3 separate regions of the Homo sapiens genome follow, and all the other regions are linked to region 3. Evidence: fine-mapped expression QTL. A gene starts in region 3. Each other region holds a variant in brackets. All regions are shown on one strand. Distances are from middle to middle. Region 1 overlaps TBC1D30 (TBC1 domain family member 30). Region 2 has its middle 18 kb from the start of GNS. Region 3 holds the start of TBC1D30 (TBC1 domain family member 30).

What was found. PIP is the estimated chance that this variant, and not a neighbour inherited with it, causes the effect.
Region 1: its variant is fine-mapped to the expression of TBC1D30 in tibial nerve (GTEx, PIP 0.98). The same link has a PIP of 0.9 or more in stomach and visceral fat.
Region 2: its variant is fine-mapped to the expression of TBC1D30 in whole blood (TOPMed, PIP 0.98).

What each region holds. Positions count from the first base shown.
Region 1 is chr12:64,872,464-64,880,564 of GRCh38, reverse strand. It overlaps TBC1D30 (TBC1 domain family member 30), which reads right to left. Exons shown (of 12, transcript NM_015279.2): 12 at 1-5,564. The coding sequence ends at 4,777. Among named protein-coding and RNA genes, the nearest start is that of LINC02389, 7.3 kb to the left of the region's middle. RefSeq lists enhancers at 7,619-7,718, 7,749-7,828. The variant T/C (reference allele first, on the strand shown) is at 3,909.
Region 2 is chr12:64,773,608-64,781,708 of GRCh38, reverse strand. It overlaps a transcript of TBC1D30 not described here. Among named protein-coding and RNA genes, the nearest start is that of GNS, 18 kb to the right of the region's middle. RefSeq lists silencers at 679-778, 859-1,138. The variant G/A (reference allele first, on the strand shown) is at 4,489.
Region 3 is chr12:64,820,484-64,828,584 of GRCh38, reverse strand. TBC1D30 (TBC1 domain family member 30) reads right to left here and starts at 3,938. Exons shown (of 12, transcript NM_015279.2): 1 at 3,552-3,938; 2 at 689-750; 3 at 76-141. The coding sequence starts at 3,705. RefSeq lists enhancers at 1,006-1,055, 2,733-3,240 and a silencer at 3,879-4,118.

The DNA of each region.
Region 1 (8,101 bases), 52 kb before region 3:
ATGAGGTTAGTGCCCTTATCAGAAGAGGAAGAGACCAAAACATACTCCCTTTCTCCATTGTGTGAGGACACAGTGAGAAGGTAGCCATCTGCAAACCAGGAAGAGGGCCCTTCCTCACCAGATACCAAATTTGCAGACACGTTGATCTTTGACTTCTCAGCCTCCAGAACTGTGAGAAAGAAATGTCTGTGTTTAAGCCACCTCAGTCTATGGTACTTTGTTACAGCAGCCTGAACTGAGTCAGACATTCAGCATTGGGAGATGGCCAGCAGGGAACGGCATGAAAGCTGACCCAATACCTACAGTACCAGTCCCCATTCAGGTGAGCACTGGCTGCCTTTGTGGAAGAACCACTCCAACAGTTCTGCCTTCAGCCACTGTCCAGCAAAGGCCTCCCATCCATCACTGTATCCTGGTGGCTCTATGACTGTAGACTTGCTGACTTTACTCTGAGCTGCCTGATGTGGATAACAGATAACTCCCACTTCAATGGTCCAAATACTCACCGGCCTTCACATTTCCATCCTGGGGATGAATCATAATTCATCCAAACATCTCCCCTATTCCCAGATGTTTATATTGTTTTCAGGTTTCCATTAGTACATTTAATACTTCAATGAACATTTGCACATAAAGCTTTTACTGCATAACTTCCAACTCTAAAATATCTGGTATTCTTTGACAAAACCTAGTAATGGCTATTTCTTTGAGTTCAGGATACCAAGTCTCAAGTACTATTCCCTTCTCAAAAGATACAATTAAAGTTCTTTTTATGAAATTCAATACCTGTTGATGAAGAAAACTCTTAGCAAGCAAAGAATAAAAGGGAATTTTCTTAACCTAATAATAGGCACCTACCAGAAACCTCAACATCTTACTTAATGCTTCTTTTAAAAGTCAGGAATGAGGTATGGGTGTTATGAGTGTTCATTATCACTGCTTCTAAAACACTTCTGTTGGCACTTCCACACTAGAAGTCATAGAAAGGAAAAAAAAGGAAAGAGACTGCTGCCTCTTCCAGGATGTAGAGAAGCAGGCATTCTCATTCACTACTTGTATAACTCCAACCTTTAAGAATGGCAATTTGGAGATATATGTATCTTAAAAATGGACATATTTCCTGACCCTTCAACTCCACTTCTATACGCATATCCTAAGAAAATAATTCGGGCTATGTACATACATGTAACAGGATACTGTCTCTACTACTATCTAATCAGAAACCTCCTATTTGACAAGGTACTGGTTATGTGAATTCTGGCATGAACACATTAGGGAATATTAGTCACTAAAAATCATATTGTATAAGAGCATTTACCAGAAAGACAGCTTAAACTACCATGTTCAACATAACTTTTTTGTAGATAATGGCGTGTACACACATACACAAACGTACTGGAAAGATCTATATCTATATCAGAGTATTGATGATTCTTTATGCTCTTTTTGTTTTCCCAATTTTCTAAAACCTGTGACTTTTCTAATTAGGAAAAATAATATATTTTAAATGCTGCAGACAGCAAAGAAAGTGGCTCAGAAACGATGTAAAGAGAGTTTTTATATGGGGAGATGGCAGCAACTATACATCTATTCATACAGAATCCTTAATGCCATGCAGCTAAACTATATTTATTGTTCATTTTATTAAGACAAAAATAAATAGTAGATCTAAAGGTTAATTTTAGGTAAACTCTCTAGGTAAACTCTGTGCTTACTCATATTCAGGAACCAGCGAGTCTGCAAATGCTGGGCAGGTCACAGGCCACCCTGCAACCCAGCGATTAGACTGGGGGAGATAGAGCTTATTGGGCTGTTTCCCTGGTTCATGTGACCAAGGGGGGTCTGGGGTTGGGGGTGAAGGAAGAAGGAAGAAGGGAGAAGGGACTGTCACAACAGTGTTCCATGCTTGCACTCAGAAAATGGCAGAACAGTTACAACAATGAGAATCTTTATGCATATAGCTTTGTGATCAATACAATCCTTCAGAACAACAAGAGACAAACAAAGGAATACAATGTCCCAAACAGCTGCAGTCCACAGGCTGACATTGCTAACTAGATTTAGATCATCTGGAGGCTTTTGTAAGAGGAACTGAGGTGCAGAGGCATCAGAATGAGTTGATTCCCGGCAAAAGGGCTAAGAGGCTACAGACATATCTAAAAATCAAGAAACCACTACTTGTTAAGTACTTCTGGTGTTTGCATACAGTGTCCAATACATAGGGAAGATAGCAAGTCCATACTGGTCTTTGTACATGCTGTGTGGTAGAGGCTACTGCAGGTTTCTTTATTTTCTAAAGTAGGCAAGGCTCATAAATTGACCAATTCACATTGTGATTACTTGGTACAATGCATGCATGTTATTGGTACACAGAGTGCTTTAATAGGAATCTGTTGGATTTTCAAAATTCTGACAAGGCCATTTTTACCTCAGAGGACTATTATCCTTTCACTTATTCATTCATTCAACAGATACGTATCCCAAACTGTGTGTTACCTCATCCATCCCCTTCTCAGGAAGACCAACCCTGGAAATAGGTGAGAGGAGAGTGTTCACAGGGCACAGCATGTGTTGTTGATACTAAGTTTGTGGACAGCAATGGTACAATCCCAAGGACTTGTATAAGTGGCCTCTACCTCATTAACCATTTCCTTGAACCCAGACCATCAGGGAGCTAGTGAGCTGATTCAAGAGAGGAAAGAACAATTCTCCATTCAAGTCAGACATCCCTCAAGGGGAACATGACTATTCTGACTCATTTGAGAAGGGGCAAAGAAAAGGATATGAGGTGGAAACACTATTATCTGTAAAGTTTAGCTGATGGAAGAAAATGGTGTCATTTGCTTAACTTTGGAAAATGCAGTGGGTCTCTGGGCCCTGAGGGTGGTATGCAAAATAAGCCCATCTCTCCACCTACAGCCTTCCCAAAAAACAGGCTGTAGGCGTGGCTGCTTTTTAAGAAGCTGGATGCTAACTTCAGATGGCACAGAATTCAAGACCAAAACTGCAATAACTTATTAGTCATATTTTCCATCTTCAGTTCCTTTGGGGGTAAAAATACCACGAAGAAGATAAAATGGCTTTTCTCACGGTATAGGTCATTGTTGTGTTTTCTGTTCAAAAAAAGCCCACACAACCACATTCTCTATTATAAAAAGTAGTACCTCTCATAGTAAAAGCCTGCTCTACAGTTACAGTTTTCGTTTCAGAATTAACAATCCATTAGCTCAAATTAATATTGGCTGCATCAACAATATTCCTGCAAGTATCGCCAATCGTCTTCCAGAGACAAACATGAAGGCTGAGTCTATTCCTCTAATGATGGCGAGGAGAAGGGGATTGAGGAGTGAGCCTTCTGTTCAGCCAAATAACAGGTGCATGAAGCATTTTTAAAATAAACTCCCTGTTCAGGATAAGGAAGTCAGAGCTGGTTTTGTAAAATGCCATCAAGGGACTCTGTACCATCTGGAGACAGGTCCTTTGAGTCAGGAGGGATTTTAGTGAATGGCTTCCCAGTCTTGGTTTTTACACGCTATGTAGCCAATACATCTGTGTACAAAGAGCATTAAACCCACCTATTGCACTGAAGGAAATGTGGCTAAGTCACTTGGAATACCGAGAGTACTGACCTTGAGTAACTGAAGTGCTACTTCACCTCTGTGTGGCTCAGAGTTCCCATCTGCATAGTGGAGACAAGAGGTGCTATCCCTGACCCGCTGGGTGAGAGAGAGCTAGAAAGGGCAGGAGTGAGAGGGAGCTAGAAAGCACTGGGGCCTTCTCCAGAGAAAGGCAGTGTTCAATTAACAAAGTACTCAACAAAGGACTCCAATCAAAAAGCACAAAATTCAAGTAACAGAGTCACAGGTGCTGTGTTCTGGCTTCTGAGCAGAGGCCTTGTGCGTCTGCAG[T/C]CTAGAGCTGGTGGGTGAGTGAGCTGTGTGGTGGGGGATGCAGGCCAGGCTCCGCATGGAGCCCATCAAGTCATCCGTACCACTGAGGATCAAAGCTCTCCTTGAGAGGCGAACACAAACCTCAGGAAAAGCTCAGTGGCGCGAGCAAGCTGTCCGGAGCAACTGCGTAAAGCATATGCCAAGTGTGTCCTGTGCATAAGATCTTCAGCTGGGTTATCGATTGAAATTTCAACAGATGAAAGGTTTTCTTCATTTTGCAGGTAGAAATAGACAGTTAAAGAAAGGCTATCTAGATTTTTCTCCTATGATTTAGCATAAGAATAAAAAAAAAATTTGAAACTGGTACTGTGGGAAATCTCACACGACACAATCCCCTCCGTAAAGCATGAAAAGGAAAATCAGGAAGTTTTTTGTAACGAAGAAACTTACTTTCTTTTTACAGTTTCTGTCCTAGCAAGCTGGTATGTGCATGCTTGAGTATTAGTAACACCCAGAGAACTGGAAGGTTTGGGGGTGCTGTCACAGGGACTCTGAAGGCCCCCAGAACAGAAGGATGGACGAGAGTTAACAATCTAGATATAGTCTTTTTTAAACAGCTCACAATGAAAAATTGGGAAAACTTCACACTATAAAACCACAATATTTATTTTGCCACAAGAATCCACTTCGTCAGTTAGCAAGTAGCTGGGAAAACAGCCCTGTTCTAACTCCTATTATAAAACTTCCAGTTCCCATTTTTTATGGGCTGTTGCTCATCCCTGAACCTATTCATTTTCACTGGACAAATAAAACTCTTTTAGAGCCATTCAGCTGCAACCCTTATACTACTGTGAAAAGGTGAGTCCAGATACAAAGTTTCGGGGAGACATCATCGTTTTTTAGTGCCACTGTTTCCACCGCCGGGTTTGCTGAAGCTCCTACTCATTTGAGGAAAGTGCACAGTTGGGGTTCTTTCTGTAGGGCCATATAATCCCAAGTTCCTGGCAGTAGCAGATTTCCGCAGGGGCTTGACGCTGGGAAAAGGGCTAAAGATGGGGGTTTTTGAGTTGCTGCCTTGGGGAGCTTTGCTGGTGGCTTTGTTTTCTTCGGGTGCACTCGGCGGCTCTGGGCAGTGCCGCTGGCAGGGTGGGTGCACCCTGAGCTCAGTTTCAGCTGCAGCATCCCTCTGGTTCAGTTCCAGGGCTCCCAACTTCGCCTGAACTGCAGACACATCCACATCAGCATCTCCGAACACCGGCTCCGGAGACTGCCCCTCGATCGTCCTCCTGGTACTGCCTTCAGGGCTGCTGCCTTCTCTCCCAGCTGTCGCTGTACAACCAGAGGGGAATGCCTCTGCTGCCCCCAGCCCATTGGTCTTGCTGGCCTCGTTCTGCTCATCTATCAGCCCTACGGTGTCCCCACAGCCCGGATGACTCTTGGTCCTTGGCATGTTCTTTTTGTGGACTCGGATGTGAGTTCGCCACGGGGAGTTGAGCTTCGTCTTAAGGTCTTCGTAGGGGACAGGAGATATTTTCCCTCCTGTGTGACCAGGGATGTGGATGACAGCATTCTTGGCAGCTCTGTTAGTCATTTTCATCTTCTTTCCTAAAAGAAGGTGGTTTATAACTGGAGAACTGTTTACCTGAGACGGGAGAATGCTGGTCACTGGCCCTTTGTCTGAAAGAAATGTTGAAAGGTAGTATGAAGTGTACCACAAAGAAACACATCCATCTTGGAACAGAAATCACTTAGAGGTCCTCCCAGCCCCGTCTACCACATCCCTTCCCATGTGTTCCCCAGGGAGGGGCAGAGTCATGTGACTGAAGACAGCAGAAACTGAATTCAACCGAAGAGCCTGGAATACCAATGCGCTCTTCTTTAAAGAGGAAGGGACCACAGGGTGATGATACAAAAAGGAACATCTGACCCCTCATTCCTAATCAGAGCCTGGACTCCCTAATTTTTTTTTTTACAGAGAGCTCTTGGCTCTGAGTAGCAACCTCTGAGTTACTGTACTTAGAAAAATCTTTGCAGATTTAAAAAAAATAATACAACAAACACTATGACCATATGGATTATCATCTGTCAGCCTCTGAGAGGTAGGAAAAGAACACACTGCATATTATGAAGTGAGATCCAGCAGAATGACAGAAGTGATAAAAAGGTAGTGAGAATGCAGTGAAATCACAGCTATCCAGCATCTAGCCCTACAGGTGAAAAACCACTCCTGTGTCCTCAATGGACTTCGAAAGCCAATTGAAAACTGAAAAGCACCAAAAGCTTTGTCCTCAGCTAGGTGCCGTGGTTCATGCCTGTAATTCCAGCATTTTGGGAGGCCAAGGCAGGAGGATCACTTGAGGCCAGGAGTTCGAGACCAGCCTGGCCAACATGGTGAAACCCTGTCTCTACTAAAAATACAAAAATTAGCCAGGTGTGATGGTGCATGCCTGTAGTCCCAGCTACTTGGGAGGCTGAGGCAGGAGATTGCTTGAACCCGGAAGGTGAAGGTTGCAGTGAGCTGACATTGCGCCACTGCATTCCAGCCTGGGCAATACAGTGAGACTCCTTCTCAAAACAAACGAACAAAAAAGCTTTGTTCTCCTAGAAGGCACTGTCGATGGCATTATCATTGACCACCTGCGGCTATGACCAGACTCCTATTTCCAATGCAGCATTCAACACACATGGTCCCAGGATGGCAGCTGCAGACAGAAATTGTAGGGAGAAGGCCTCTCCCTCTGTGTGCGAGTTTCCTTCTTCCTTGATGTCCATGTCATCTGGCTGAACTAATTTCCACCCTTCTCTACTGTTGTCATTTACCACTGGTCATACCCCAGTATCAACTAAAAATGTTGATAACTGTCTCCTCTTCACCACATTCCTGCCACCTCCCCAATTATTTGACTGTCACTGTGATTGGCCCTCCATTACATTCTCATAGTTCCTCAACCTCTCCAGTTCCATCCTAAACATTATCACCCAGCTCTACCTTATGTGAAAATATTTAATTCTAATACTCCTCATTTTGGCTCTTCTAGCTCTCAGGCTCTCAGTCTAACTATATGTGGTAATGAACCACAGAGACTTCTGGCTCCTTGTTCCTCAGGCTCCTCACAACCCCTCATGTGTCTTCGGCTCACTGACACCCCTACCCTGCCAGATGCATGGCTGACCGCTTAGATCACTCCCTCACAGGCATCCCTGTCTCTTTGTCACACATTGCTAGTAAAGCCCCAACCTAGGGTCCATGATCTACATTCTCTTTTCTGAAACTGAGCCCTTTAAATTCATGACCTCCCATTTCACTGGGTCCTCAATGCCAAACAATCTTTTCATTTCCCTTTCTCGCTCCCTTCAGTGACCTAACTAAATCTTCATTACTTTCTTTAACCTCTCATTTACTCCCAATCCCCACCAAACAACTTTCCCCCAATTACTCCATGAAAACAAAAGCTATCAGATCTGAAAGGCCTCTATTTCCCATCCTCCCTAACTTCGGAAGCTGATACCTCAACCACCATACTCACCACCTTCCACTAAGTCTCAGAAGCTAAGGTCTTTTTGCCTCTAGTTCAAGTTCAATCTCTCCACCTGTGCTGCTAATCCTATCATATACCATCTCATCTAAAACCATGCTACTCAAACCATGGTTTCTGATATGGTTTGGCCATATCCCCACCCAAATCTCATCTTGTAGCTCCCATAATTCCCACGTGTTGTAGGAGGGACCCAGTAAGAGATAATTGAATCATGGGGGTAGGTCTTTCCCGTGCTGTTCTCATGATAGTGCAGAAGTCTCACAAGATCTGATAGTTTTAAAAATGGGAGTTTCCCTGCACAAGTTCTCTTTGCCTGCTGCCATCCACGTAAGATGTGACTTGTTCCTCCTTGCCTTCCACCATGATTGTGAGGCCTCCCCAGCCATGTGAAACTGTAAGTCCATTAAGCCTCTTATAAATTGCCTAGTCTCAGGTATGTCTTTATTTGCAGTGTGAAAACAGACTAATACAGTCCCCATGCAGCAGCACCAGCAGTGCCTACGGGCTTGTTAGAAACATATAATTTCAGCTCCATTCCAAACCTACTGAAACAGAGTGAATATTTTAGCAGATCCCCAAATGATCTGTATGCACACTAAATTTCAAGAACCAAAGCTCTAGAGCTTTGCCTTTGAGCAGCAATCTCTCCCTTAAAGAGAACCACCATCAACCATG
Region 2 (8,101 bases), 47 kb after region 3:
AAACAAAAAAAAAAAAAGGAAAGAACAGCCCTACGACTCGCCTCGATTCTGGCGGCGCCCTCTAGGTAGGTCAGGTATACGTATCAGAACCTCCAACCCTGTCCTAACAGCTGTTCAGGTGAAATTAGAATCTGGGCTGCCTCTCCCCTGGGGCCTCCGCGAACACACCGGGAGATGGGAGGAGGGAAGAGCGGGGAAACTGCCCACTCCATCAACTGACGCTTGATTCAATTACTCCGGAGAACTTAAGAACTAAGTGTGGACATAAATCTGTGCCACGGTGGGTACCACCGTCAGATCCAAAGAGACAGTATCTGAGCGCTCCGCCGAGCAGCCCAGGTGCGCGCTGGAGCGCGGGCAGAGACGGCGAGGACAACCCGGCTCCAGGAAGCCCCCGGGACCCTGCTGCGCCCGGCCCTCACCTTTCTGCCGCAGGTACAGCATCTGATGCCGCTGGCTCGGTCGCTCCTGCAGCTCCTGCAGCACGCGGGAGTCGCCGGCACCGCTGCGGCCGCCCAGGACCACGTCGGAGCCCGAGGCCTCGGTGGAGCTGTCGAGGCTGTCGCGGCGCCGCCGGCGGCCCTCGGCCCCGCGGCCCCCGCCCGCCGCCTCCTCCTCCTCTGTGCAGCTGTACAGCTCGTTGAGCAGCCCGCTCACCAGGGACGCCGTGCGGCTTGTGCGGCCGCCGCACGCCTCGCCGGGCTCCGTGTCCTCATCGCCGTCCCACGTGTCCCGGGAGCGCCGCGGCCGCTCCGCCGCTCCCCGGAGGCGCGGGGCTGGGGGAGCTGCAGGAATCGTTTCTTCCTCCTGACTCTCCAGCCTCGCCTCGCCACCGCCGCCGCGGAATTCCAGCTCCGTCCGGAGCCCCGGGCGGCCCCCGCCGGTGGGAAGGACGTCCATGGTCCCCGGCGCGCGGCTGCCCGGCTCCCGCTGCTCCTCCCGCCTCGCGGCGCCGGCCAGTTCCGGGAGGAGGCGCGGCTTCGTCCTCGCCGGTGGTGCCCTCCCGGGCGCGGCGCCAGCGGGCTCTGGATCCCCGAGGTGCCCGGGCCTCCCCCGAGCCGGCACCTGAGCCGCTCCCCTCCGCTCCGGACCGGGCGAGAAGGAGACTGCCACGCCACTGAGCTACCTGGGGCCACCTGCTGCCCGGGCCCGGCCTCTACCCAGAGCGCTCTCCCGTGCGCGAGAAGGCGCAGGACGTGGCCAGAACACCGTTGGGAAGAAGCCAGCAGCACGGAGGGGGAGGGCGCTGAGGCCGCCGCCACCTTCACTTTTAATTAAGCACGTGATTTAACTCAAAAAGAGGGTGACTCTTGCCTCTTATTCAGCCGCCAGCTAGAAATAATGCCCAGGAGGGTTCTAAACGCCCATCAATAGGCCCAGGCCAGGAGCTCCTTCTTGACATACTCGGAACACAATACCAGCCCTTCTCACTTTCCCACCTGATCTGAGCGCCTTCAAAAGCCTTCTTAGTTTAGTCTCTGACAATAAGCTTTCTAAAACTCTGAACACCTGGCAAATATCTGGGACTTAATAACGCTGTGAACTTTTTTCCTCCAGTGAAAACCAAAGCACTGGATTAAAATCAACTAATTCCCTGATACAAGATGTAACCAGAGTGAGGGTTTAATAAATGTTCTTGAGATGACCGAACTGATACATTAATTGAGCTAGTTTTGATGATGGTAGAATCAAAAATTTACAAGATACTGTGAGAGATGTATCTTACACTAGACCTCAATAGAACTCGGAACTGCCGCTCCACTGTAGATATTTTTGTGAAGTTAATAATTGGCAACATGTTTAGCGCTTTTTGTATGTCAGGCACTGTTCTTAGAGATTTGCATGAATTATCCCACTTAATCCTCACTTTAACCCTATAAAGCAGTTAAGTGTCGTTATATTCTCACTTTTCAGCTGAGGGAGCTGAGGCACGAAGAGGCTAAATAACGTGTCCATTCACAAAGAATAAAGTGAACTTTTCATAAAGTGTCTGGCTTTCATTATGGATGAATATATATTAGTCAAATGCTATTAAATACTTGACCACACTTCCAAAAGGGGCAACAACACACCTGGTGAACAACACTGGTGTTTCGTGTTTGTTCAGCACAGTTTTGTCTTCCAAGGCACTTTCATAATAGAGCCTGACCCTGCCGGTAGAAATCTGGTGTACCTTGACACCAGCACTGCAATAAAAGGGCCCTTTTTGAAACTGGAGTTAATATGAGACAAGCAGAAGTTGTACTTTTCGCTTAGGTATTCGGAATTTTAAATTATACTGGAAATATTATTTTATGGTTTTATAACTATATTAATGACTATTGTTACCATTTAATGTTTAAATGTATGAAATGAGAGTAGAATTCATTATTATATTGCTGTTTTGTTTTTTGAGGTCTTTTTCCCTGTTGTCCCTGGCATTCAACGAGTTCCAAGTCCTCCTTCGTATGCCAAACTTTGCAATGAGCAGGACTTTCAGAGGAGTAAACACTGAAATTGGACCTATTTTTTTAATTGGCTTCCCAGCCCTTTTTATCTCTTCCCCCTAAGAAGAGATGTGATTAACTGTTAGTCTTCAGCACTATTCTCATTTAGGGAATCTCCATCAGGAATTACAGGTAAAGAAACTCAAAGTGAGCTGAAGGGAAAAAAGAGACCAAGAAAACAATAGGTTATTGACATTCAACATTTCTAAGTTAATAAGAACTTCAAAATTATTTCCCATTCCCCATCATTACCAAATCTAAAGAGAGGAAAATGGCAAACTAAAAACTAACAAGGAAAGCACGCTTAAGATCATTGTACTTATGGAATGATCTTCCCCTAGATATTGGCATGACTCTGCTCTCACCAAGTCTCGTCTCTGCTTAAATGTCTTCTCTGTGAGCCGGGCGCGATGGCTCACACCTGTAATCCCAGCACTTTGGGAGGCCGAGGTGGACGGATCATGAAGTCAAGAGATCGAGACCATCCTGGCCAACATGGTGAAACCTCGTCACTACTAAAAATACAAAAATTAGCTGGGTGTGGTGGCCCATGCCTGAGAATCACATGAACCCAGGAGGCGGAGGTTGCAGTGAGCCGAGATCACGCCACTGCATTCCAGCCTGGGTGACTGAGTGAGACTCCATCTTAAAAAAAAAAAAAAAAAAAAAAAAAGGCTTCTCTGTGAATCACTCCATAACCACCCTATTTGACATTGCAGCTCCCCATCCCCCAGGTTTTCCTTAGTTCTCTTCCTTGTTCTTTTTTTTCCCATAATACCCTCTTCCCACATACTACAGTATATAATCTACTGATTTATTTTGTTATCTGTCTTTTGCCACTAAAATGTAAGCTTCCGAGCGCAGGAATTTTGTCTATTTTGTTCATTGATATATGCCCATCACTTAGAACAATCCCTGGCACATTGTAACTGCTCAATAAATATTTGTTTAATTAACTAATTGAATGAATACCATGAAAACCAGAGAAAAAAACAACCAATTACCTACTTTCCTAAGAAAAGTTAACTTTAGTAAATATAATCCTAGAAGCGGTATTGGCAAAGGACAGCCGCTTTTCTCACCCTACACTACTGCCACCAGGAAACTGGCAGGCCCCACACAAGTTCCCTGAAGCTCTGGATATAAGAAAGAACCACTGATGGCTGGGTGCAGTGGCTCACGCCTGTAATACCAGCACTTCAGGAGGCCAAGGCAGGTGGATCTCTTGAGAGCAGGAGTTTGAGAACAGCCTGGCCAACATGGCGAAACCCCATCTCTACTAAAAAAATACAAAAATTAGCCAGATGTGATGGCACACACCTGTAATCCCAGCAACTTGAAAGGATGAGGCATGAGAATCACTTGAACCTGGTAGGCAGAGGTTGCAGGGAGCTGAGATTGCACCACTGCACTCCGGCCTGGGCAACAGAGCAAGACTCCTTTTTGGTTCCATATGAATTTTAAAATAGTTTTTTCTAGTTCTGTGGAGAATGTCAATGGTAGTTTAATGGGAAAAGCATTGAATCTATAAATTGCTTTGGGCAGCATGGCCAATTTAATGATATTGATTCTTCCTATCCATGAGCATGGAATGTTTTTCCATTTGTTTGTGTCATCTCTGATTTCTTTGAGCAGTGGTTTGTAGTTTTCCTTGTAGAGATCTTTTACCTCCCTAGTTAGCTGTATTACTGGGTATTGTATTTTTTTGTGGCAATTGTGAATGGGAGTTCATTCCTGATTTGGCCCTTGGCATGACTGTTGTTGGTGTTTAGGAATGCTAGTTATTTTTGCACATTGATTTTGTATCCTGAGACTTTGCTGAAGTTGTTTATCAGCTTAAGAAGCTTTTGGGCTGAGATGATGGAGTTTTCTAGATATAGGACCATATCATCTGCAAACATGGATTGTTTGACTTCCTCTCTTCCTATTTGAATGCCCTTTATTTCTTTCTCTTGCCTGATTGCCCTGGCCAGAACTTCCAATACTATGTTGAATAGGAGCA[G/A]TGGGAGAGGGCATCCTTGTATTGTGCCTGTTTTCAAGGGGAATGCTTCCAGCTTTTGCCCTTTCAGTAGGATATTAGCTGCGGGTTTGTCATATATGGTTCTTACTTTTTTGAGGTATGTTACTTCAATACCTAGTTTATTGAGAGTTTTTAACATGAATGGATGTTGAATTTTATCGAAAGCTTTTTCTGCATCTGTTGAGATAATCGTGTGGTTTTGCCTTTAGTTCTGTTTATGTGATGAATCACATTTATCGATTTGTGTATGTTCAATTAACCTTGCATCCCAGGGATGAAGCCCACTTGGTCCTGGTGAATGAGTTTTTTGATGTGCTGCTGGATTCAGTTTGCCAGTATTTTGTTGAGGATTTTTGCATCAATGTTCACCAAGGATCTTGGCCTGAAGTTTTTTTGTAGTTGTTGTATCTCTGCCAGGTTTTGTTTCAGGATGATGCTGGCCTCATAGAATGAGTTAGGGAGGAGTCCCTTCTTTTCAACTTTTTGAAATAGTTTCAGTGGGAATGATATCAGCTCTTTTTTGTACATCTGCTAGAATTCAGCTGTGAATCCATCTGGTCCTGGGCTTTTTTTGGTTGTTAGGCTATTTATTACTGCCTCAATTTCAGAACTCATTATTGGTCTGTTCAGGGACTGAATTTCTTCCTGGCTCAGTCTTAAAAGGGTGTATGTGTCCAGAAATTTATCCATTTCTTTTAGATTTTCTAGTTTATGTGCATAGATGTATTCATACTATTCTATGATGGTTGCTTGTATTTCTGTGTGTTCAGTGGTAATATTCCCCTTACCATTTTTCACTGTGTTTATTTGAATCTTCTCTGTTTTCTTCGTTAGTCTACCTAGTGGTCTATCTATCTTATTAATTTTTTCAAAAAAAACTAGCTCCTGGATTCATCTTTTGAATGATTTTTCATGACTATCTCCTTTGTTCACCTCTGATTTTGGTTATTTATTGACTTCTGCTAGCTTTGGGATTTGTTTGCTCTTGCTTCTCTATTTGTTTTAGTTGTGATATTAGGTTGTTAACTTGAGATCTGATGAGGGTGTTTAGTGCTATAAATTTCCCTCTTAACACTGCCTTAGCTGTGTCCCAGAGATTCTGGTATGTCATATCTTTGTTCTCATTAGTTTCGAAGAGCTTCTTGAGTTCTGCCTTAATTTCATTTATTTACTCAAAAGTCATTCAGGAGCAGGTTATTCAATTTCCATGTAATTGTACAGTTTTGAATGAATTTCCTAATCTTGAGTTCTAATTTGATTGCACTGTTGTCTGAGATATTGTTATGATTTCAGGTCTTTTGCATTTGCTGAGAGGTGTTTTACTTCTGATTATGTCACTGATTTTACAGTAAGTGCCACGTGGCAATGAGAAGAATGTATATTCTGTTGTTTTCATGTGGAGAGTTCTGTAGATATCTATCAGGTCCATTTGATCCAGTGCTGAGTTCAGGTCCTGAATATCTTTGTTAATTTTCTTTCTTGATGATCTGTCTAATATTGTCAGCAGGTGGTTAAAGTCTCTCACTATTATTGTGTGGGACTCTAAGTCTCTTTGAAGGTCTCTAAGAACATGCTTTATGAATCTGGGTATTCCTATGTTGGGTGCATATACATTTAGAATAGTTAGGTCTTCTTGTTGAATTGAACCCTTTACCATTATATAATGCCCCCTTTGTCTTTTTTTATCTTTGTTGGTTTAAAGTTTGTTTTGTTAGAAACTAGGATTGCAACCCCTGCTTTTTTCTGTTTTCTATTTGCTTTGTAAATTTTCCTCCATCCCTTTATTTTGAGCCTATGTGTGTCATTGCACATGAGATGGGTCTCTTGAAGACAGCATACCACTAGGTCATGGTTCTTTATCCAACTTGCCATTCTGTGTCTTTTAATTGGGCATTTAGCCCATTTACATTTAAGGTTATTATTGATATGTATACATTTGATCCTGTCATCATGATGTTGTTAACTGGTTATTTTGCAGGCTGGTTTATGTAGTTGTTTTATAGTGTCACTGCTTTGTGTACTACAGTGTGTTTTTGCAGTGGCTAGTAACAGTCTTTTCCTTCCATATATATCTATATCTATATCTATATATATATATTTTTTTTTTTTTGAGACACAGTCTCACTCTGTCACCCAGGCTGGAATGCAGTGGTGCAATCTCGGCTCACTGCAACCTCTGCCTCCTGGGTTCAACCAATTCTCATGCCTCAGCCTCCCAGGTAGTTGGGATTACAGGTGTGCAACATGACACCCAGCTAATTTTTGTATTTTTAGTAGAGACGGGGATTCACCATGTTGCCCAGACTGGTCTCAAACTCCTGGCCTCAAGTAATGTGCCCACCTTGGCCTCCCAAAGTGCTGGGATTACAGACATGAGCCACCATGCCCGGCCTTCTTTCCATATTTAGTGCTTCCTTCAGGAGCTCTTGTAAGGCAGGTCTGGTAGTAATGAATTCCCTCAGCATTTGCTTGTCTGAAAAGGATCTTATTTCTCCTTCGTTTATGAAGCTTAGTTTGGCCAGATATGAAATTCTGGGTTGAAAATTATTTTCTTTAAGAATTCTGAGTGTTGGCCCCCAATCTCTTCTGGCTTATAGGTTTTCCTCTGAGAGGTCTGTTGTTAGTCTGCTGGGCTTCCCTTTGTAAGTGACCTGGCTTTTCTCTCTAGGTCCCCTTAACATTTTTTCTTTCATTTTGACCTTAGGGAATGTGTTAATTATGTGTCTTGGGGATGACCTTCTCATGGAGTATCTTACTGGGGTTCTCTGCATTTCCTGAATTTGAATGTTGGCCTGTCTAGCTAGGTTGGGGAAGTTCTCAGGGATGATATCCTGAAATGTGTTTTCCAAATTGGTTCCATTTGCCCCATCTCTTTCAGGTACACCAATCAGTCAAAGATTCAGTCTCTTTACATAATCTCATATTTCTCAGACGTTTTGTTCATTCCTTTTCATTCTTTCTTCTCTATTCTTGGCTGCCTATCTTATTTCAGAAAGACATTCTTCAAGCTCTGAGATTCTTTTCTCTGCTTGATTATGCTATTAATACTTGTGATTGCATTATGAAATTCTTACAGTGTGCTTTTCAGCTCTGTCAGGTTGGTTACATTCTTCTCCACTCTGGCTATTTTGTCTGTCAGCTCCTATGATGTTTTATCATGATTTTTAGCTTCCTTCCATTGGGTTACAATATCCTCCTTTAATTCAGTGAAGTTTGTTCCTATCCATATTCTGAATTCTACTTCTGTCATTTCAGCCATCACAGCCTTGGCCTGGTTCCAAACCCTTGCTGGAGAGGTGATGCAGTCATTTGGAGGAAAGAGGGCATTTTGCCTTTTTGAGTTTTCAGCATTCTTGTGCTGATTCTTTCTCATCTTTATGGGATTATCTATTTTCAATCTTTGAGGTTGCTGACCTTTGGATGGTTTTTGTTTTTGTTTTAACAGCTTGATCACTTTTCTGTAGGGCTGCTGTGGTTTGCTGGCAGCCTGGTCCCAGTCACCTTGGGTTTTCCAGTACCTGGAAGTATCACCAGTGAAGGCTGTAAAACAGCAAAGAGGGCAGCCCACCCCTTCCTCTGAGAGCTCCATCCCAGG
Region 3 (8,101 bases):
TTTTTGACATTCCAGAGGCTCTAAAGAAGGGCAGTGATGATCCTTCTGTATTCTAGCCCTATGAGTCCTCCTTACCTTTCTCCTCCATTCCTTTGGTATTCCTGTGGATAGCCTGGCAACTGCCTTGAGAGCATCGTACCACTAGGAACAAAGAAGAAATCCCAGGAGGTGATCACAGTGACCTAGATAAGCACTTTGCAATCTTTTTCCCATCTTGACATTCATAGAATGTGCTGAAATTTGCACAGCACAATGGGGTAAACAGTCAAAGCTTCTTTCAGACAGAAGTGATCAGTCCATGGCTATTACTGTGCCACGTCCCACCCCTTGGGCACCCTTAACACATCTGTGACCCCTTTGCAGTACAAACAAAATGGTTGGGAAGCTCTGGTTAATAAGCCAAAATATATATTATGGGGTTCAGAATAAAAGACATTATGGTACAGGTGTGAAATTTATTCATTTTAAAATTTTTCACACATGTACCATTAATAGAAAGTGCAAAATTTGTCACTGCAAATATAAACCCAGGCCACTTGTAGCTCAAAAGCTACTTTAACTGAAATATTGTTGAAGTGACTCATCTTCACATTCATATCAAAGAATACGTTATTTCCACTTTGAGAATATATCTCAATGTGCCCTGTTGGTAACCCCAAAAGAAGAGTGTTTTCAAAATCAAAGTTACCTGCTGAAAACCATTTTGACCTAAAGATGGCTCAAGAGTGAATTTCAACTTGGTATCAACTCCTGAAAGAAAAATACATAAATAGATGTTATTTTTGGAGACTATAACAAGTTATATCAAAAATACTAGTAAAAGCTTGATTCTACTGAATCATCACAATTTTTTTTAAAGTATGTATCTTTACTAAATTTTAGTCAATTTTGCCAAAAGGTAAGCATATTGATTCTTAAAATAGGAAAATACCCTACAGCAATAGAAAGTGCCTTACTACATATGACGGTGGTTTACATAGATGCCTGGAGTACCACAAAAGCAAAAACAAAAACAAAAAATGACACCACAGGCTTGGAGTCATACAGTCCTCCATTCGACTTGGTTCCTAGACTGAAACAATTTATCTAACCTATCTCAGTCTCAATTCCTTTTCTTCTTTTTAAGAGATACAGTCTCAATATATCACCCAGGCTGAAGTATAGTGGCTATTCACAGGCACAATCATAGCACAATGCAGCCTTGGATTCCTGGGCTTAAGCAATCCTCCCACCTCAGCCTCCCAAATAGCTGGGATTATAGGCACGTGCTACCACGCACAGCTAATTTTTGTATTTTTTGTAGAACAGGGTTTCGTCATGTTGGTCAGGCTGATCTGAAACTCCTGATCTGAAGTGATCCACCTGCCTCAGCCTCCTAAAGTGCTAGGATTACAGACATGAGCCACGGCACCCGGCCCCATTTTTTAAAGGAATTATTGCCCAAAAGTTCAAGGACCAAGAAATGCCAAATACTATCAATAACATTAAGTTTTACAAATTTCAAAAGTCAAATGATGGCATTTTTGTTTCTAAGATTGTTGATTGTAGATTAGGTGTACTAAAAACTTCTCCACAACTTCCACTTCTTAGTGGTTGGTATGAATAGGAGCAATCTTCAGAATTTATGAAATAATAGTAAGTAATCAAGTAGACTGGTCTTTTAAAAAATATATATATACACGGAGTCAAGAAGCTGGAAAGAGATGTATCTGATTTTTGCAAGCCCATATCAGTATGCAGGTGTTCTTGGAACCCTGGAAGAGCGCTGTAAATTCCTGAGTTGGGTCCTAGGTTTCCAAAGTAAGCTGTGGCAGAGAATCCCAGGCATCCAATCAATGCCTTGATATTTCTTTTTAAAGCTTCAGGGCCATAACCATACTCTGCCTGGATAGATAAGTTTTTTTTTTCTCCGAAGGAATATTAAGTACCACATGGATCCGCCTCTCTCTGAGGTGGTTTAAACGAAGTCCTGCCCAAACATAGAACGGTGATAACAACGGCCACGGGAGTGTTTCCAGCCCAGCGCACGCTTTAAGGCACGCTGAAAACAAGTGAGGTTGCTGTCCGGACGCGAGGTGCTGAATGGAGGAGCGTATAATCATGACGTTTGCTTGATAACAAAGACCAGGAAATTCGGTCCCGCGCTGACTTATTCTTGCCACACTACAAGGATTCCCTGTATGTCTGACCAATATGCTCTTCTGACTTTTCCGGGGCACCTGCTGGGCATCATGCCGATTGCCTTCTCATAGTGAAACCCAGCAGGGGTTAGTTGGCCAAAACCACAACTATCCTCTCATGATCAAAAATGAGCAAGAGGATTTAACTGAAATTGATTCGCCGCCTGCATGCAAAAGCTTAAACCAGGTCACTTTCACCCCACTTTTCTTTTCTTCTAACAGAATACGGGCAGAGAGAAGGTTTATGTTTCATCTGATAATCACAGCTATTCCGGATTCAGAAATACAAAACACTTACTTTTAACGTGGGAAGGAGATTTAAAAGAAAAAAAAAAGAGGTAAAGGAAGATGGTGAATAAATACTACAGCCTCTGCAACTAGACACTTCCTAGGGGAGAACAACAAAGAAACCACGAGGTTGGGAAAGGCAGTGCCGCATCCCACCCTTTGGGACTCTGCAGCTCGATTCTCCTGCGGCTCTACAGCAGGTCCCCAAGGCGCTGGCGCTGGGGGGCGGGGGCCGGGGACCGTGAACCCGCCTGGAACGCAGCCGGTGCCACTCCAGGGAACAGGTGAGCGCCAAGCACCAGTGAGAGTACAGCCAACTCCCTCTGCAGCCACTCCTTGCCAGAAACCTCCGTGCCCAGGAGCCCGCGCTAGGGCCAGGCTCTTAAAATCCCGGGGAGGGATGCCGGGTGATGGAGCCGACACGGAGTTATGCAGTCTGGAGAAGCAGGGATGGGTAAACACAGGCTGACAGTGGGAAGGGCCTTGCCTAGCACGACCAGGCTCGTTCCTGGACCTCACCTATGAAAAGGATCTCCTGCTGCTCCCCACTCGCACTCACAAATTACAGGCTCCAGTTCGAGCTGACCCCGGCACTCACGCTGAAGGGACTCTTGGGAAAATAACACCCGATTTTGCCTTTGCAGCCACTGTCTTCCTCCTCCGACCTGCAGTGTCAAACCTGTGCCACTCTCCGCCCCCACACACCTCTCGCAAGGTCTGGCTTCCTGCGAGCCTGGAACACAATAGGTGGTGCGGCCTCTGAGGGCCCGGGCAGCCACCCGCACTTCCCCGCCACGCGGAGAAAGCCGAGCACACAGGCCGCAGGGTGGGGGTCCGCGGGGAGAGGGTGGAAGCAGCGGGTTCTCCGCGCCTGGGGTGGCCGCTGCCCCACCCAGGCCCCCGTCTGCCCTCTACCCTTCCAGACCAATCGCTCCCTGCAGGTGCCAACGCGGTGCCCCGCACCAGGTGGCACGCGGACTTTCCCCAGAGCTCCCCGGCCTAGACGGAGTCAGGCTAAGGCAGAAGCGCGGGCAGCCCCGGCGCTACTTTACAGCGCCCCATCTGCAGCCCTGGGGTCCTCACCCGGCTCCAGGGTGCACAGCAGCCGGGGCGCGGTCCGGGAAATGCAGCTGCGCTTCTTGAGCACATTGCTCAGGATGGTGCCCACGCCGCCGCCCTGCCGCTTCAGGCATCTCCCCCCGCGCCTCAGAGACCCGGTCAGCTTGTCCTGCCGCATCCGAGAGCGCCCCGGGCTCTGGCACGGCTACCGTCCGTCTCGGTCCCCGCTACCCCACTCGCTGAGCGGCTGAGCTCGCGGAGCTGGGTGAGTGTCTGCGGCTGACCGGCCCGTGGGAGCAGGGAGCGCACAGCCGGCTGGTGCTGGAGGGTCACGGGGACTTACGGGGCACCGCGGGAGCCGCCGAGCGCAGGGAAGCCAGCAGGCATCTGCAGTGCGGAGCCTGCAAGGCTGAGGCAGGAGATCGCTCGAGGCGGGGAGGGCGGGAGCGAGCGAGCGAGCGAGCGCGTGGGAGACGGAGGCGGCGTGCCCGCCCCCAATCCCGGCACCGCCGTGCGCAGGCGGGGCCGCCCCAGCTCCCCCGTGCCCAGAAGCGCCAGAGACAGGGAGCCAGTGGGCGCGTAACTGCGTTCGGGGACCAAAAGCAGAAACAGAGATGTCCGTGCTTCTCCCAAGATCTGGGAGGGAACAGAGGGAGCACCAAGGGGCGCCAGTCTCAGGGGCAGAACACCCGTAAGGGCAAGCATCCTCTCCCACTTCCGAGCAGTCTCAGAAGGGGCCATGACCCAACCGCAGGCGGCGAGGCACACGCTTCAGCCCGAATTGCGTTGAATTATTTCCTGGCAGATTAGAGAGGCGCGGAGAAAATGAAGGAAAAAAAAATTATTGTTTCTTTTAGAAAAATGGGCTTCCAGAAAAAAAGTGTTCTCTTTTCAAGCAGTATTAAAAAGTAATGTTCCTCATCTCTCCAGCCAGACTTCAGTAGTTCTGAACTATTGCCCATCATTATGGTTTAAAAAAAAAAAAGTCATTCTCAAACGGCAATATTCACCAATAGACTATTTACCATTAAAATGGATGAAAGAAAGGGTGTGGGGGGGGGATATAAAGATACTTGTGTTTGCTAATATTTATAAAAAGAAACACTAAATGGATAAACCAAAAACAAATTAGAAAACTTGTATAGGAGAAGGAACATCGTGGAGGAGACAAGAATGGAAAACTGAGTCCTCTCTTGATGTGCCTCCTGTAGTTTTGGCTCTGGAATAACACTATATTAATAATATTAACAAATTAAATTTTTAAAAAACCAGGATGATGGAACAGCATGCCTATAGTCCCAGCTACTTGGCAGGCTGAGGTGGGAAAATTGCTTAGCCCCAAGAGTTTGAGGCCAGCTTGGGCAACATAGCGAGACCCCATCTCTTAAAAAGACATAAAAATAAAAATAAAATTTGAAAATACATAAAATAGTCTGGGCACGGTGGCTCACACCTGTATTCCTAGCACTTTGGGAAGTCAAGGCAGGAGGATGTCTTGAAACTAGGAGTTCAAAGCTGCAGTGAGCTATGATTGCACCCCTGCATTCTAGCCTGAGCAACAGACCTAGTCCCTGACTATAAATGAATAAATTATTTTTAAATTGTAAAAGAAAACCCTAACAATTGAAAATTAATGGAAACAAATCAACCTAATGGACTATCCCACTTATAGCATAAGAACACAGAAAAAAATAATTCTCTCTTAAGTTGACATAGAACACAATATTATGACTGTACATCAACAGTTGTACATATTCCCAGAGCAAATAAAACTGCAAAGAAACCTTACATTTCATTCAGTAGTATTATTGTTATTAATAATATTCATATTTCTTAAATTCTTATATCCACTACAGGATAAAGCAAATAAATAAGTATGCTAACATCAAATGGAGCCAAGATGTTTTCAGTGTAATAGAAAATATGTGTATAACCAAAGTAATTAAGTTTTCTTTAAAATATTACAATTATATATTTATATGGGAAACACTAGTATGAACTCATTTTTTTTTCTTTTCAAAAAAATACATACATTCATTGAATAGGTTTAGAAGTAAGGACAACTCAGCAGCAATGAACACCCACAGCACCCAGGTTATGGTCTCTAAAAACCATTCCCCACTCAAAGGAACTAAGGCTCCTTTGAGGAGTGACTGATTCCAGGTTTGGGACAGAAAAAGTACAAGATGACCCTGAAACATTTTGATGAGCTCAAAAAGAAAGGAAATGTTTCACAATTAATGGGGTCAAGTCAAAAAGACACAAGAGTCACATAAATAGGCTCCTTCCTATTGGCCAAAGATGAAACAATTTGAACTTGAAAAACAATGGCTGAGCCTGGACAACATGGCAAACCCCCATCTCTACAAAAAAAAAAAAAAAGCTACAAAAATTAGCTGGGCATGATGGCACACACCTGTAGGCCCAGCTACTCAGGAGGCTGAGGTGGGAGGATCACCTGAGGCCAGGGAGGTCAAGGCTGCAATGAGCCATTATCGCACCACTGTACTCCAGCCTGGGTGATGGTGAGACCCTGCCTCAGAAGTAAAAACAAAAACAAAAAGCAATTAATTGCTGGGTCAGGTGCTGTGGCTCAGGTCTGTAATCCCAGTGCTTTGGGAGGCCAAGGTGGGACAATCACTTGAGGCCAGTAGTTCAAGACTAGTCTGGGCAAAATAGCAAGACCCTGTTTCTGCAAAAATAAAATAACTTAGCCAGGTGTGGTAGTGTATGCCTGTAGTCCTAGCTACTTGAGAGGCTGAGGCAGGAGGATCACTTGAACCCAGGAATTCAAGGTTACAGTGAGCTATGATTGGCCACTGCACTCCAGCCTGGGTGAGAGAGCAAGACCCTGTATCAAAAGAAAAAAAAATGGCTGCTATTGATTGAAAAAATATTGAATATTTTTAAATGCCTTCATAAAGATAGCCTAAACAAGCCAGAAAAAGAAGGCATTCCTATGACGCTTCCCAGAATTTGAGGACAATGTCAGAAATGGTGCAACCCTAAGAATGAGCTGTAAAAGAATCTATTAAAAATGAGATGAGCCATCTGCAAAAGTAAAGCAGGCTAATAAAGGACATGCAAGCTATTCAGTTGTAGCTGCCTGGCAGAGGTAAAGATGCTTTCAAAAGGGCAGTACTCTTTGAAAAGGCATCACTTTAGAAAATGAAGTCACTGTTTAAGCTGGTCATGACTAATTGCTTGGCTTAAATTTCCCAACCTTTTGCTGCGAGCTCCGGTACAGAAATTTATCCTCCATCAACCATCAACTTTTTACAGTTTTGGTACATGTTTGTATCCTTCAGCTTTGTATTAATTTTAATAAGACACTCATTGGCTGTTGCAGCCTATCTCAGTTGTACTGAGAGCCATAGGAAGAGGTCTGATGCTTCCCTTTGACCAGTTTTTTAGAGGGCACAGTATACCCTGGGGCTGAAGATGGTGATGAACACCCGAAGTCAAAGAGAGGGAACTGGCAGGAGAGGGAAAATCCAGCAGGACAAGTTGGTAACTGCATGCACAGTCTCGTCTTCCAGACCTCTCATATGCTCAAATCTTAGAGGGTTTTGTGTTCTATTTTAACAAGAGAGGCTATTCATGCTCGGTTTCCATCACTAGGCAAGCCAAGAGGACAAGCAATCAGCTCTGTTCTACAACACTGTCTCTGGAGTGGAGAGGAGGACGTCCTGCCCCTGGGGCTGTGACATATGCCACTCAGACCATCCAACTCCCTTTGGCTCTGACGTCATGCTCACCAAGCAAACTTTGGATTGTCATTTGATTTCCCATATAGACTCTGCTGCAGCACAGAGAATATACTGACCAGTTAATAGCAGTCAATACCCCTGAGTTCACTTACCAGTCAGTAACCTGAAGACACCAAATTTCCAGACTGCCAAAGCTGACATCTAGACTCTAGGCTGTCAACTCACCCATGTGTCATGACTGATAAAAAGACCTCTCTTTAGATTCTTCTTTACTTGTAATACTTTTCTTTACTAGTAGTGACAGAAGCTTGTTTGCTTGCAAAAGGAACATTCAATTTCACCTCTTTTAGATCTATTACGAGGAAAATCTAACTCTGTTTTTAAAATAAAATTTAAGAGTTTCTGCTATGATGGCAATAAACAGCAAAGGAATTAGATAATATTATTTTGTTTACATTGGAGAGGAAAGTCAGGACTGCCAACTTTTATAGCAAACAGATAATTACATGAGCACTAAAACACAATACTCTAAAAGCAGCGATGGCCCAAGCCTAGTATTATGTTGATTGTGTGACTCACAGTTTTTTATTTCATGTCTGGAATATTGTTTTACAAACGTGAAAGATGTCATCTAAAGTCAACTTACAGAGAACTCAAGCCAGCATGGACTTTGCCTGAGAATCTCAGGAGCCAGGCCAATTTACCATTATTCTTTACTAATCAAGCTTTACCAATCAAATAATAGTGAATTCACATTTGGGCAAATTATACACTGCCACAGTCTACAATGGTTATGACTTATGCTGAATTTAGGGGAAGGAAGGCTTAATGAACACTTCACATTGGATGAGATAATGTTATTTG